Regions from separate parts of the Homo sapiens genome. Here region 1 is linked to region 2. The links come from fine-mapping of genetic effects on gene expression. Tissue or cell type: whole blood. Region 2 holds a variant in brackets; the other region holds the start of a gene. All regions are shown on one strand. Distances are between the middles of the regions.

Region 1 (8,166 bases), 21 kb before region 2:
ATAAAGCTAAAAAAATATGAAACAACTCTGATCATTCTCTTTTTCAGCATCAGAAAATGCAGATTTGGGGGCAAGAAGAAGAGATGAGAGAACAAATCCAGTGGCTGGGGAGAAGCTTTCAGGTCTACCTGAATCCTTATCAAGCATGGTAGAGTCACACAAAATCCCTGCAACGTAGCAGGCTCTCCCTGCCCTTACTTTGTTTTTAATAGCCAAAGAAGCTCTCTCTAGAAAAAATATGCACTTTCTGCTTTTTAAAAAGGAGGAAAAAAAAAAAGCAAGCTTTGGGAGAGAAGAACCTATCCCCAACCCCCTTTAAGATGCAAACTTTCTCACTTCCTCAAAGAAGAGTAGTGCACTAAAAAGAAGGTTGCACCCGGAGAGCATGTAAAGTGTCTCAAGGGGGACATCTGAAGTGCCCCGTTCCCAGGGAGCCCACTGGCTCCTCACAAGTAATCTAATGAAAGCTATGCATTCTCTCTGGGCTCCTCATATGAAAAAACCCAATGTATGAAGCAAAGCCTAGAAAGGATTCAATACTGGAGAAATGCACACAGCTACCAGCTTTCTTCCTTTCTTGTTTTCCTCTTTATAAAGCAAAAAAACAACCTGTCCCCCACTCAAGGCTCATTTAATCCTATAAGCTTCTTTATTGGCCTAAGTATCCAGTGAAGATAAATTAGCAATCAAAACCAAGTCAGAAGTGTGTAATAAGCAAACACATGAAACAAGTTAACTTCAAATATTAACCTGCAGTCTAAGGGATTTTTTGTTTTTTTAATTTAAAACAAACAAAAGAAATGACAGGCAAAGTAGATACTCTCGGAAAATACACATGTACAAATGGCCTGTGCTCTGATCAAATGTAATTAAGCACTGAACTTGTCTTAAATTGCTTAATTGCTTGAGAAATGCATCAGGCTCCCACAAAATCTATTTAAATATTTTTTCATCCTTCTGAGCACAAACTGACGTGTTTAAAATGACAAAACTATTAAAATTATAAGCAGAACTGCACCTTGACTAACATTAAAACCACGTCAGAAAGTTCAAGAAAATTAAGCTAATGAAAATCAGTAACATAACCTCAATACTAGTTTGTGATTGTACTTTTATGGCTTTACTAAAGTTTAACAATAAAATGGGGGGTAACTAAAAAGTGTTCTCCCTCCTTTCAGAGGTCCCTGAAAAAACATACCCGCTGCAGCATCAGCGGGTATATGCATTCAAGATTAAGCAAGATGAAACAGGGAATCATGACCAATATTCTCCATCTAAACCTTACAGGCCTACCTCAGCAGCTGTGATCAGGATGGGAGTGGATATGAGGGGAAAAGGGCAAAAGGACAGGACAACTGCAATGAAGATGATGATTATTCTTTTTATTTATCTTTTTGAGACGGAGTCTCGCTCTGTTGCCCAGGCTACAGTGCAGTGGTGCGATCTCGGCTCACTGCAACCTCCACCTCTCAGGTTCAAGAGACTATTCTGCCACAGCCTTCCAAGTAGGTGGGACCACAGGCACATGCCACCATGCTGGCTAATTTTTTTGTATTTTTAGTAGAGACAGGGTTTCACCATATTGGCCAGGCTGGTCTTGAACTCCTGACCTCAGATGATCTGCCCCCCTCAGCCTCCCAAAGTGCTGGGATTACAGGCTTGAGCCACCATGCCGGGCCGAAGATAATTATTATAAAGGCAGCTAACTTTCTGTGAACTCTTATTACATGCCAGACACTGTGTAAGTGCTTGACATATGCTTGATATATGTAACTGCTTGACATATGCATGAATTCATTGAATTTATTCAATTCTCTCCCTACGAGGCCAGTACTAGCATTAGTCTACTTTAGAGATGAGAAAACCGAGACACAGAGGTAAAGTCCCATGTTAATACTGCATGAGGCAGAGCTAGCATGCAGACCATCCAACTTCTTATATTGAACTGTAGCCCATCTGTACTCAAAACACATCAACTAATTCGTCTCTGGCACTCAATAAGCAAAACAGATTTACCCTATGCCAAAAGCTGTTGGTCAAGGAGCATAAAGAATGAAGCAATACTGCCTAGAACTGCATGCTACAGGGTAGGGTGCAAAAGCAGATAAGCTAAACCACTGCAAAGCATTGCTCACAAATGTTTTAGAGGATTGGAGCTGTCAACTAAAGTAACTGAGGTTTTTCCAAACTGTGTTACATAAGGATGGAACTGTTTCTTATGGTCGTCCACTTTATAGATTTCTGGTCTTTATAACCTTTCAGAATGACAGTTCCATTATGTGTCCAGCCTATGGCATAAATAGCTTTTTTTTCCCTTAAGTTTCAAAAGGCACTCCCTGGTCCACCTATTTAAGAGTTTGATTGACAAGCACAAGCCTGTGTTCTCCATTAATGTCAATCATTTCTCCTTACTCCTTTGTCAGGTGAAAGCTCCAACACCATACCTGTAATTTTAGGTATTGCCCCTCTGCCTTTTAATGCAACACAACATCCATTTTTGGCCAATGATGGATGCAGCATTCAAAGAACTAAGCACTCTGATTTTCTACAAAAGTTGAAGTGACGCTTTCTACTTAGTTTCTAATCTTTTTCCACTGCTGTCTTCAAGGACACCAGCCACAAGTTTCTGGATCCATTTCCCATAATGTTCCTGGAGGCTGCTTAAGGCCCTAATATTTTGTTACTAAGATGTTGTTAAAATGTTTCTAAAAAACACATTGTTCTATTCCTGCTCACAACAAATCTCACTCTCACAGCCTTGGGAGATTTGGGTGGAGCCTGGGAATACAAACGTACTCAAACTAAACTTTCTCTTGAGTATAACCTGTGGAACTTTTAGGTTAAAGGGAGTTACTCCTCCCAGTCCACATACAACATAGATTATGGGGATACTATAACCTAGCAGCCAGGGGATCCACACAATAAAAAGGGCAATGTATGTCCAAAATTATGGTCTCAGAGGAAATGGGAGACTGTAAGAAGTCATATAAATAAAACATTACAGGGATATAGCTTTTAGAAGAAAATGCAATCAAATAAAAACGTTGTAAAAAACTTGCCAAGGAGAAGAAAATTGAGATATATAATACCTAATAGTAAAAGGTTTTTTTGTTTTTGTTTTTAAAAAGCAAGCATGAAAGCGTGGACTTGGTTGGAAACAAGACATTGAAAAAGTAAACTCTCTCATGACTGTAGCCACAGTAGTACTGTCCCCAAGAAAAATTAGATGACTATAACCGCCTTCCCCAACAAACCAAGTTGCAAAGGACTGAAATGCTAAGAATATAATCAGCTAGGATACGAAAACCATGGTTCTCCAATGTGAGCTGAAATGGAATAATTTTTAAAAAAAAAAAGTACAAGCATTACAGTAGCCAGGTAATCAATCACTCGCACAACTGAGCCTGAACCACAGCTCAGCAGAACAATGGAAAAGCCCTGAAGATGTACAATGGATAAAAGACTTGTTCCGGCTGGGTGCAGTGGCTAACGCCTGTAATCCCAGCACTTCGGGAGGCCAGGCGGGCGGATCACCTTTGGTCAGGAGTTCGAGATCAGCCTGACCCACAAGGTGAAACCCTGTCTCTACTAAAAATATAAAATTAGCCGGGCGGGGCGCCTGTAATCCCAGCTACTCGGGAGGCTGAGGCAGGAGAATCGCTTGAACCCGGGAGGCGGAGGTTGCAGTGAACCGAGATCGCGCCATTGCACTCCACTCCAGCCTGGGTCAAAGAGACTCCGACTCAAAAAAAAAAAAAAAAAAAAAAAGAGAGAGACTTATTCCGCTGCAGCGCCAAAATCGCAAGCTCAGAACTCTGCACAGACGGCACTATTTCAAAGGTCAAAACCAGGACCTCAGCAATCTTCCATTAGGTGACTTTACAAAGTGCTACAAAAGTCATGACTACTACTATTCTTTACAACCTAGCAAGCGAAGGAAAGACCGGGGAGAGCCGGGAGGCCGTTTAGGAGAGAAAACTACTTTGACAAAGACTGCACAATTACAGAATAAAAATCAAAAATAACTGATAGAATTAAAACTGATCGCAGTTCATGTCTTTGGCAGCAAACTCCCGTTTGAGCCGAGCAGGAACAAACGCGTTATGCCTGAACCTTGTGCACATACAATTCTTTCTTCTCTTGCACGGCCCGCTTCCAAAATGCATTCACCGCCACTCTCCATGGAACCTTCAGCGGGCCCTGGGGGCAGCCAGAATTTTCCAAACGAGGAAGCTGAGGATCGGCCCAGAACCCTGAATTTTGAGGGGAGTGAGACTTGGGCCCTCACAGGCCCAGACGCGAGATATTTCAACTACACCCGGGAGGCGCGGGGTGAAAACTCCCTGGTGTCGGGCGGGTGCAGGCCCCTCGCGGCCGGTCGCGCCAGAGCTTCCACCTCAGGGTGGGCGGCCAAGCGCGTGGGCACGCTGCAGGGAGGGCCGCTCACCTGGGCAATGCCGGCGCCCATCAGCCCGCCGCCGATGACCGTCACGTGCTTGACGATTATCTTCTTGGCCGAGGCCGAGGCGGTGGACGAGGAGGACACGGAACGCATGAACTGCCTGGTGACGAAGGCCATGGTGTGGCAGCGGCGGCGACAGCGAGGAGACCCGGGCAGGGAAGACGCGCGAGGCGGGCAGCCGCGGAAAGCCAGACTCTGGGGGCGGGGACCTACGCGGCCCTGCAGCCCGCGCGCCCCCGGCGTCCCCGTGACGCCACAAGGCGGGGGCGGGGCCTCGAGTCCCGCTCTGCCCATTGGCCCTGGCTGTAACGTCCCAGCGTTGAGCGGGTATACACGCGCGGGCTCGCAGCTGTCAGCAGCCGGAGCCCGAGTGAGCGCGGGCTTGAGACCTGCTGAGCAGCGGGACCTGGCGGCTGGCGTTCTGGTGTGGGGCCGAGAACAGACCCTTCTTCTGAAAAGCCACTGGCCCCTTGTTCTATGAAGTGAGTGGTGTTGACTCTGTAAAATGCTATCCTTTGATGACATGTGCATATCTAGGCTCTGAAGAAATATGTGCTGCTTGGCTGTGTTGGTAATGGACCCAAAATGTGCACCGTTGGTTGATGTCACCAAATAATCAACTCGGGATTATTTTAATCCCGTGGACAGTGATTGTTTCCCCTAAAAGGGAAATAAATGTAGACTGCGAACACCCAAAACAAATGTCTAGTGACCATGAGTTACAATGCAAAAATCAGGCTCAGGGAAGGTAAAGAGAGAGTTGACCTTTAGTTACCCATCTTGACGTTGGACGTCTATCAGTGCAGTGAACATGTGGACGGTTTAAGGTCATAGAGCAACCTTTCTGGAATAACGAATACTATTAGAAAGCATAGGAAAGAAATGTCTTGTCAAATAATGGAAGACTGGATAGCAGCTTGGCCAATCTTCTCACTCAGGTGAATACTTTCTAATTACTGTAACTTAGTGATATAGGATTCTTATTAATTTATTTGCTTTATGTTTAAATATTGTTAACAAAAAAACTTCAAACAAGTTTAGCAGAGTTTATCTGAGCAAAGAAAGCATGAATCATGTAGTATCCTGAGCCAGTAAAGGTTCAGAGAGCTCCAGCCCCTAACAGTGGGCAAGCCGCGTTTATAGACAATATTTTTTGCAGCCTGTAATGGGCTAAAAGCTCCGCTGCGGTGATTGGCCAAGACTTGGCCACTTGTTAGAAGAACGTACTCTCAAATTACATTGCAGTTTATTTACATATTAGGTTTGATTATGCTTTGCTAGGTAGGGAGGCAACTTTAGGCCAGATTTAATTTAATAACAGTTTCCTCCTTTGGGTCAGCCTCTCAGTTTTACGAGATTGACCAGAACCTTGTTTTGTCTCAGTATGGAAGTCACAATGTCAAATTAGTTGAGTGATTATACTTTCTTCATGTTGTTATTCTAACTGTAATAACACCATTTGGTGTACAAAGGATGGCTGCATAGAGACATTGAAGACTCTCGAGGGGACAACAACACATCAGGGAGACTATTATGGCCACGAGAAGGAGTATAGCAATAAACTGAGGTACACACCTTAACAGGAGTCTCCACAAACTGAACTGATCAAAATTAAACAATTCAAAGTTCAGGCAATAAAGATAGTTCAAAGTATTTGAGTCCAATTGGTCATGGTCTAATTTAGGGCATTATGGCGGTTAAGGACTGCTAGAAATGCTTATTTCTTGGTGCCGTAAAGAAATAGCACTTGAACATAAAATTAATTTCTTTAGCAAGGCCATTTTTACTTTCTGCGGAAAGAGTACACTCGCCAGCAGTTTTGCCACAAGAGTACACCGAACAAAGGAGGCAGGGTCATTTATAACCTGACCCGTCCACCTTACTGTTGTGACTGGTTTCCATTGGCTAGAACGGGACTTCACATTCTGTATTTGTCTTGATTGGCTAGCAACTTAGAAATTCTTAAAAGAGGCAAAGGCAGAGGAGAACAAAGGAAGGAGGAAGTAACTTGTGGAATGCTGAGAAGGGAAAAACACCTCTAAATAAGGAAGAGGAACAGGCTATGACCTAATGCCCACTTGGACCAGTATAAGCATGCCAGGGCAAATATTTAGGCTAAATTGTGGGAGCTAAGAACATAAAGTACATTGATTTCTTTATTACAGCTAGCAGATATTTAAGAATGTTAACAGGTCTTTGAATAAATTTTGCTTCTAAGAGAGGTTACTATTTATTCCTAATCAGATGAGGAGGAAAGTCTTTGAAAAGGAACCTCTACTTTACTTTTTACAAGGACCATAGTTCACTGAATGACCTGATTCAGCCTTATGGCCTGATTTAAAGAGGTATCCATTTTTGTAATTAGCCTGGTAACACAAGTTATAATAACCTGGAGAGCCACTAAAGAAGCATAAAGATTAGAAAAGTTTGGAATAGCCTAGCTTGCCTTTCACTACTCAGGATGCCTACAAACCAACCATTAGCTGCTCCCATAAATGTATCATGTGTTCCTTTCCCCTGAGAAGTTTCCTTAATATATTCAGTGGCAGTGTTTAGAGAAACAGCAGTATCTGCCACCTTTTAAATTAAGTTTTCTATAGTAGTAAAATTAGAGGAAAAATAAGTGCAACATTCAGTTTTATTCAGCACCATGCAAGAGCCCCCAGCATGAGCAAAGAGGAGATCCAAAGTTGTGTAATGTTCCATGAAGTGTGTTTGTTGAACACAAATGTTTTGATCCACTGAGAATATTTGAGTAGCTTCTACCATGTGAACCCCTAGGAGGTCTGACTGGCTACAAATTCAAGATTTTCCCCAATTTATAGATTAGTTTCAAATTCCATACAACAGGCACCCTGCTAATGCCAAGAGTGAGTTCCAGCACCTCCATTGGAACCTTTCCTCAGTAGAAACTAACTTGTCTTCATTTATTTTTAGGTTGGTGCTTACTTTGGTTATTGACTGCTTTAACCTCTGATTATGAAAGGTATTATGGGAACTTTCAGGGAAGGCTATTGGGATGTAGGAGCGAGCCAGGCCAAATAGCAAGATCTGAACCAGTGAGGAAACAACAGAGAAGGCAGGTCAGATTATCCACCAACCCAATGTAGGCCCTTGGGGGCTTGAAAAGAGGGCCACTTAGTGGTGTTTGAGCCGAGGTCAGTTAAATTTGTCCACCCACAAGTTGGCATAGCTCCTGAATAAAATCCAGTGGTGAACTTACTCTTCTGTGGTCCCTATATAGCATGTTGTAAGGGTGCAAACCACTGGATCTAGTAAAAAGACTTTGCTAGATTTAATCCAGTGAAATCACACAAGCAATTATTTGTACCCACATAGGTAGTCCCCAACGTCTTAAGTATGCAATGCCCGGAAGCACAAGATACCTTTTGCAGGCATCATTCTGATAGTTTTTTTTTTTTACTTTTATGTACAATTGACAAATAATAATTGTACATATTTATGGGGTACAGTGTGATGTCTCAATGCATGTATATGTTGAACAATGATCAAATCAGGATAATTATTAAATAATATGTCACTTTAAGCATTTATCATTTCTTTTTGGGGATAACATTCAAAATCATCTCTTCTAGCTATCTTGAAATATACAATACATTATTATTAGCTGTAGTCATTCTACTGTGTAATAGAATAGCAGCTTTTATTCTTCCTGTCTAACTGTAACTTTGCACCCATTGACC
Region 2 (8,201 bases):
CATTGTCCCATCGTTGTCATAGACTGACAGGTTCTTCTTGCCTGCTGCTCAGAAAAACCAATGCACTGAGAACAGCAAGTATTGCAGCAAAGAAAGAGTTTAATTATTGTGGGGCCAGACAAATGAGGGGAATGGGAGAAATTTCTCAAATCTGTCTCTCCAATAATTCAGAGGGTAAAGTTTTTAAGGGTAAATTGGTAGGCAGGTAGTGGGGAAACTGAAACAATTGATTGGCTGAAGATGAAATCACAGAGGTGTCTAAATTGTCTTCACACAGCTAAGTCTTCCCAGGGAAGGGGGAAAGGGTGTTCTCAGAACCAAGTGGTATCTCTTTGTTGAAATGCTAAATCTGAAAAATATCTTAAAGACCAGTTCTTTAGGTTTCACAATAGTTATGTTATCTATAGGAGTAGCTGGGGAGTTACAAATCTTATGACCTCTCATGTGACTTTGGAGCAGAAAGCAATGTATAGAAAAGCAAGCTAAGCAGCAGTAGGTTATTGTTTAACCATGCTTATTCTTTAGCAAGGTTCAAGCCCCAACCATAATTCTAATCTTGTGTTATGAATGCAGCATTAGTCTCCAGCAAGAGGGGATTCAGTTTTCCTTGCTTCAAAGTTTAACTATAAACTAAATTCCCTTCATATTATCTTGGCCTCCATGCTAGAATAAACAACAACAAAAAGAAAGAAAAAAGAGAAAAGAAAAAGAGGAGAGGAAAAGAGAAGAGCCTGTGAGGTTGAGGTTAAAAGCAAGACAGTCAGTCATGTTAGATTTCTCTCATTACTTAACAATTCTGCAAAGGTAGTTTCACTATGTTCAGAGTTATACTGAGGTGCATTTAGGGAAAATTCTTCATCTTAAAGATTTTAACAGTGTTGGCATATACTAACCATTCAACATATTTTTTGAATGAATAAGTGAATAGCTTGAAATTTATGGCTATTTAAAAACAATGCCATTTCATGCAGTAACTCCCACCACAGGCTTGAGTTGTGGTCCCTTAGGAGTTTCTGTCTCCAACTTATCTTTGTGTACCTGGTCAGATGTTTCCTGAGAGGAGCAAGCCTTTATTGTTTTTCCTACAATTACGTTTCTTATTAATAGGGCAGAAAGAATATACAGCATATACAGATATACAGCTAAATGGTATTACATTAATCCCAGGCCCCCAGGGAAAATTATTTAACAACCAATGTAACTTTTTTTTTTTTTGAGATAGAGTCTTGCTCTGTTGCCCAGGCTGGAGTGCAGTGAGCTATCTTGGCTCACTGCAACCTCTGCCTCCTGGGTTCAAGCGATTCTCCTGCCTCAGCCTCCCAAGTAGCTGGGACTACAAGCGTGTAGCACCATGCCCGGCTAATTTTTTTTTTTGTATTTTTAGTAGAGACAGAGTTTCACCATTTTGGCCAGGCTGGTCTCGAACTCCTGACCTCAGGTAATCTGCTCACCTTAGCCTCCCAAAGTGTTGGTATTACAGGCGTGAGCCACTGCACCCAGCCTCCAATGTAACTTTTGCCTTTAAGATTTTTTTCTTTGAGACAGAAAAAAAAATCTTCAAAATTCTTCATCTTAAATATTTTAACAGTGTTTGGCATATACTAACCATTCAACATATTTCTTGAATGAATAAGTGAATAGCTTTACATTTATGTATATTTAAAAATAATACCATTTAACGTAGGTGCTTGAAACAATATGAAGTAAGAATCCTACCTGCGATTGTTTTTGGTAGGTCCTTAAGATTTGGCAGCTTACTCTCAATATATCTCTCTTACTCTCTCTCTCTCTCTCTCTTTTTTTTTTTTAATATGGTGAAATTAGACCAGGGGTCAGAACATAGATTTTAGTCTCCTTTAGTTCATCTACTAGGAGACTAAATTAGATAATCTCTAAACTCCCTTTTAGTTCTAAAATTCTGTAATTAAACTCTAGCATATCATCATTTTAGACTAAAAGTTTTCTTCTTCTTCTTCTTTTTTTTTTTGTTTTTTTGAGATGGAGTCTCGCTCTGTCACCCAGGCTGGAGTGCCATGGTGCAATCTCGGCTCACTGCCACCTCTGACTCCCGAGTTCAAGCGATTCTCCTGCCTCAGCCTCCTGAGTAGCTGGGACTACAGGTGTGTACCACCATGCCTGGCTAATTTTTGTATTTTTAGTAGAGATGGGGTTTCACTGTGCTGGCCAGGCTGGTCTGGAACTCCTGACCTCAAGTGATCCACCCGTCTCAGCCTCCCAAAGTGCTGGGATTACAGGCATGAGCCACCGCACCCGGCCTAGACTAAAGATGTTTTCAATTAAACATTCTTAGTATGCTTTAGTAAGAGCTATTGAGGCTTTCATTTTACAGATGAGTATTAAAGTATCATGAACCAAATAGGCTCTGTGCTATAAGAAATAACTCAATAAGAAATAACTCAATGGTGGTTCATGCCTGTAATCCTAGCACATTGGGAGGCCAAGGTGGGAGGATCGTTTGAGCCCATGGATTCAAGACCAGCCTGGGCAACATGGTGAGACCCTCCCCCCCCCCGCCCCATCTAAAAAAAAGTACAAAAATTAGCTGGGCACATTGGTGCATGCCTATGGTCCTAGGTCTTCAAGAGACAGAGGTGGGAGGCTCGCTCCAGCCCAGGATGTCCAGGCTGCTGTGAGCCATGATCGCGCCACGACACTCCAGCCTGGATGACAGAGTGAGACCCTGTCTCAGAAAAAAAAAAAGAAAGAAATAACTCAATTGTTTCCAGGCAAGCTATCGCAATCTGGTAGGACATTGTTCCTTTATTTTTTCAAGGAATAGATGTTCGTTATAGAAAATTTGAGAAATGTAGAAAAGAATTAAGAGTAAAACAAAAATCAAACATATACATTGTAAGTCAGATCATGTCCCTTCTCTGCTAAAAACTCTCCCATAGCTCCCATTTTATTCAGATAAGAGCAAGTCTTTACCCCACGCACTCCCCCGCACCACTATCCGCTACTCTCTTTTGTCCATTCACTCTGCTTCAGCTGTGCTGTTTCCCTGCTGCTGTTCCTCAGACCTTGCAGGCACACGCTCACTATGAGGGCTTTGGACTTGCTGTTCCCTCTGCCTGGGGTGTTCCTTTCCTAGATATCTACAGGGCTCACACCTCAATTCCTTGGCTGTTCACTTAAAAATCACCCTCCCAGTGAGGCCACCTTCCCTGGTCTCGCCACCTAAAATTGTAACCTCTCCCTGACATTTTGTATCCCCTTGCTAGTTTTATTTCTTAACACTTATCACTAACATGCTACACATTTTGTTTCTCTTATCCATTCAACTTTTTTTCCCCTTTCAGGAATTAAGCCTCTTCTTTTTTTTTTCTTTTGAGATGGAGTCTCACTCTGTCACCCAGGCTGGAGAGTGGTGGTGCAATCTCTGCTCACTGTCACCTCCACCTCCTGGGGTTCAAGCAATTCTCCTGCCTCTGCCTCTCGAGTAGCTGGGATTGCAGGTGCCTGACACCACGCCCAGCTAATTTTTTGTATTTTTAGTAAAGACAGGGTTTCACCATGTTAGCCAAGCTGGTCTCGAACTCCTGACATCAAGCGATCCACCTACCTCTGCCTCCCAAAGTGCTGGGATTACAGGCATGAGCCACAATGCCTGGCCAGGAATTAAGCTTCTTACATCACAGATTTTTCTTTTGTTCACTGCTGTGCCCCAACATCTAGAACAGGCCTCATAATTGTTTTGTGCATGGATGAGGGTGGGTATTCCATTGACCATAGTGTTGAGCATGTGGATTTTTTATCCCTTTTTTTCTTTTCTTTCCATTTCTCTTCTCCATTGCTCTCAAATATATCACTGCAATGAATAACGTATCCCAAACTATTTTTCATCTGATTATCTCCCATAGTTAGTATCTTAGAGTAGAATTTATTGGGCTAAATGACATAAATGCCTAATTTTTAAAATTTGGGGATGATTTTAAGTTACAGAAAAATTGCAAAAATGGTCCAAAGTTCTTATATTTCCTTCACCCAACCTCTACTAATTTTGACATCTTACATAACCATGGTTCATTTGTCAAAACTAAGAAATTAACATTGGTATGATACTATTAACTAAACTACAGATGTTATTTGAGTTCACCAGTTTTTCCACTAAAGTCAGTATTCTGTTCCAGGATTCAATCTAGGATGCCACTGTGCATTTAGGAATAATTAGAATCTTGGTACATATTCTTAAATTTTCTCCAGATATGTGGTTCCAGTCTGTATTGCCAACAGCAATGTATGACTGCTTCTCTCTTA[T/G]CAATACTTAGTATTTTCCTTTTTCAAAAATATCTTTAAAATTCAATGGTTAAAAATGGTGTCTCACTGTAATAGTTCCATTTCAATGAATTTGAAAAATGTTTTATATTATTGGCCATTTGTATTCCTAAAAATTTTTGGCCAGGCATGGTGGCTGATGCCTGTAATCCCAGCACTTTGGAGGCTGAGGCAGGTGGATCACTTGAGGCCAGGAGTTCGAGACCAGTCTGGCCAACAGGGTGAAACCTTGTCTCTACTAAAAATATAAAAATTAGCTGGGGGTGGTGGCACGTGCCTGTAATCCCAGTTACTCGGGAGGCTGAGGCACAAGAATTGCTTGAACCTAGGAGGTGGAGGTTGCAGTGAATCGAGTTTGAGCCACTGCACTCCAGCCTGGGTGACAGAGAGAGACTGTCTCAAAAAAAAAATTATATCTCAAAAATTAACTCAAGATGGATTAAAGACTTAAATGTAAAACCCAAAACTATAAAAACTCTAGAAGATAACCTAGGCAATACCATTCAGGACATAGGCACTGGCAAAGATTTCATGATAAACATACCAAAAGCAATTGCAACAAAAGCAAAAATTGACAAATGGGATCTAATTAAACTAAAGAGGTTCTATACAGCAAAAGAGACTATCAACAGAGTAAACAGACAACCCACAGAATGGGAGAAAAATTTTGCAAACTACATTCAACAAAGGTCTGATATCAAAAGTCTATAAGGAACTTAAACAAATTTACAAGAAAAAACAAACAATCTCATTAAAAAGTGGGCAAAGGATATGAACAGACACTTCTCAAAAGAAGACATACATGTGGCCAACAATTATATAAAAAAGCTCAGTATCGCTAATCATTAGAGAAATGCAAATCAAAACCACAGTGAGAAACCATTTCACACCAGTAAGATTGGCTGTTAAGAAAATAAAAAAATAACAGATGCTAGTGAGGTTGTGGAGAAAAAGGAATGCTTATACATTGTTGATGGGAGTGTAAATTAGTTCAACCATTGTGGAAGACAGTGTGGTGATTCCTCAGAGACCTAAAGACAGAACTACTTTTTGAGCCAGCAATCTATTACTGGATATATACCCAAAGGAATATAAATCATTATATTATAAAGACACATGCACACATGTTCATTGCAGCACTATTCACAATAGCAAAAACATGGAGTCAATCTAAATGCCCATCAATGATAGACTGGGTAAAGAAAATGTGGTACATATACAACATGGAATACTATGCAGCCATAAAAAAGAATGAGATCATATCCTTCACAGGGATGTGGATGGAGCTGGAGGCCATTATCCTTAGCAAACTAATGCAGGAACAGAAAACCAAATACCTCATGCTCTCACTTATAAGTGGGAGCTAAATGATAAGAACACATGGACACATAGAGGGGAACAACACACACTGGGGCCTATCTCAAGGTGGAGGGTGGGAGGAGGGAGAGGATCAGGAAAAATCACTAATGGGTACTAGGTTTAATACCTGGGTGATGAAATAATCTGTACAATAAACCCCCATAGAAGTGACTATGTTGTCTGGGGTATATACCCTGGGGTTCATGGTCGTGCACCAGGAAAATGTTAAGACATGGACAAACAAGAGGAGTTTAGGAGTGGAGGTTTAATAGGCAGAAGAGAAGAGAAAGAGAAACAGCTTTCTCTATAGAGAGAGTGGGGTCCCTGAATGGAAAAGACCTGCAGGTGGCATTGAATTTTATAGTCAGGTTTGAGGAGGCAGTGTCTGATTTACAAAGGGTTCACAGATAGGTTCGATCAGGTATGACATTTACATAGCAGATGGGGAAAGGCCGGTTGTCTCACCCTAATCTTATTATGCAAATGGGCTTTCCAGTTGATCTGAGCCATCTTGTCTGCTTCTTACTGTACACATGGCTGGCAGAGAAGGGAAGATGAAGCTGCCATCTTAAACATGTCTAGCCCCTAGTTCCTGCCAGCATTCACCCATGCAAGCTCCCAGCTTCCTCGTCTATGTCTGCCGCTTGACTTTACAGGCTGCTCTTTGTTAGACAATGATTTGGGGCTGCTTTTCATTAAAGAGAAAAGCCTTACCGAGGACTTCTGTACCCTCACTATCTGCCTAAGTGATTTCTTCTTAACTCCTGTATCACCATGACACAGTTATCCTATGTAACAAACCTGCACATGTACCCCTGAACTTAAAAGTTTAACACAATAATTTGTATCTTTTGCCTGTTTTTAAAATTAGGGTATTCTACTACTGAATTATAGCACTTACAGTTCACTAGAAGAAATACTATGCTATAGTATATGAAAATATTAAAGATACTATATATTATAGTATATATGGATTTATAAGCACTGACTTATAAGCACTTTATATATTAAGGATATTGAATTTTTGGCAAGGCTGATACAAACATTTTTTCATGATTTGCCAGCCGTTTTTTGGAATACAAGAGTTTTCTATTTTTATGTCATTAAGTGTATGCTGTTTTAGTTTTCTGATTGATTCTATTATTTTTTTAAGAGTTGGATTTTTTCTTTTTTTCTTTAAACAGCCTTATTGAAGAACATTGATGGATAAAAATTGTACATATTTAAGGTATACAACTTGATGTTTTGATGTATGTATACATTGTGAAATGGTCTTCACAATCAAACCAATTAACATATCTATCACCTCACCAAGTTACCATTTTCTTTTTCTTCTTTTATTATTATCTTTTTTTGTGGCAAAAACATTTAAGATCTACTTCTTAGAAAATTTCAAGTAAGGAATATTGTTAATCATAGCCACCAGGCTGTACATTAGATCTGTAGAACGTATTCATCCTGCATATTGAAACTTTTTATCCTTTGACCAGCATTACCGTTTCTCCCTCCCTACTGCCCCTGGCAACCACCATTCGCTTTATAATTCTATGAGTGCGACTATTTTAGGTTTCACACATCAATGGGATCAAGCAGTATTTGTTTTTCTGTGTCTGCCTTATTTCATTTAGCATAATATCCTCCAGGTTCATCCATGTTGTTGCAAATGGCAAAATTTCATTCTTTCCTGAGGCTGAATAATATTCCATTGTGTGTGTGTGTGTGTGTGTGTGTGTGTGTGTGTACACCACATTTTCTTTTATCCATTCATCCATCAGTGGATACTTACACTCTTTTCATATCTTAGCTGTTGTGAATAATGCTGCAGTGAACATGGGAGTGCAGATAAATCTTCAAGATCTTAATCTTGATTTCCATTTCTGTGGGTATATCCCAAAAGAGGGATTGCTAGATAATATGGTCGTTCTATTTTTTATTTTTTGAGGACCCTGTATACTGTTTTTGATAAAGGCTGTCCCAATATAAATTCTCATGAACACTGTACAAGGGTTCCCTTTTTCCTGCATCTTTGTCAACACTTTTAATCTCTTGTCTTTTTGATTAATAGCCATCCTGATAGTTATGAGGTGATGTTTCATTGGGTTTTCATCTGCATTTCCCTGATGATTAGTGATGTTGAGCACCATTACATATACCTGTTGGCCATTTGTATATCTTCTTTCTAGAAATGCCTATTTAGGTCCTTTGCCCATTTTATAATTGGATTATTTGCTTTTGCTATTGACTCGTGTGAGTTCCTTATATATTTTGGATATTAACTCCTTGTAAGATATATGGTTTACAAATATTTTCTCCCATTCCATAGGTTGTTATTTAACTCTGTGATTTTTTTTTCTTTGCTGGGCAGCAGTTTTTTAATTTGATGTGATTCTACTTGTCTATTTTTGCTTTTGTTGCCTGTACTCTTGCTATCTTATTCAAACATATTATTGCCAAGACAAATGTCAGAAAGCTTTTTCCCTATGCTTTCTTCTAGTAGTTTTACGGTTCTGAGTCTTATGTTTAAGTTTTTAATCCATTTTGAGTTT

Evidence for each region. PIP is the estimated chance that this variant, and not a neighbour inherited with it, causes the effect.
Region 1: HADH starts here. The variant in region 2 is fine-mapped to the expression of HADH in whole blood (INTERVAL, PIP 0.93).

The regions. Positions count from the first base shown.
Region 1 is chr4:107,986,346-107,994,511 of GRCh38, reverse strand. It overlaps HADH (hydroxyacyl-CoA dehydrogenase), which reads right to left and starts at 4,623. Exons shown (of 8, transcript NM_005327.7): 1 at 4,448-4,623. The coding sequence starts at 4,579. RefSeq lists a silencer at 4,627-4,856.
Region 2 is chr4:107,965,045-107,973,245 of GRCh38, reverse strand. The region is part of intron 1 of LOC107986298 (a long non-coding RNA gene); the gene reads left to right. Among named protein-coding and RNA genes, the nearest start is that of HADH, 21 kb to the left of the region's middle. The variant T/G (reference allele first, on the strand shown) is at 4,279.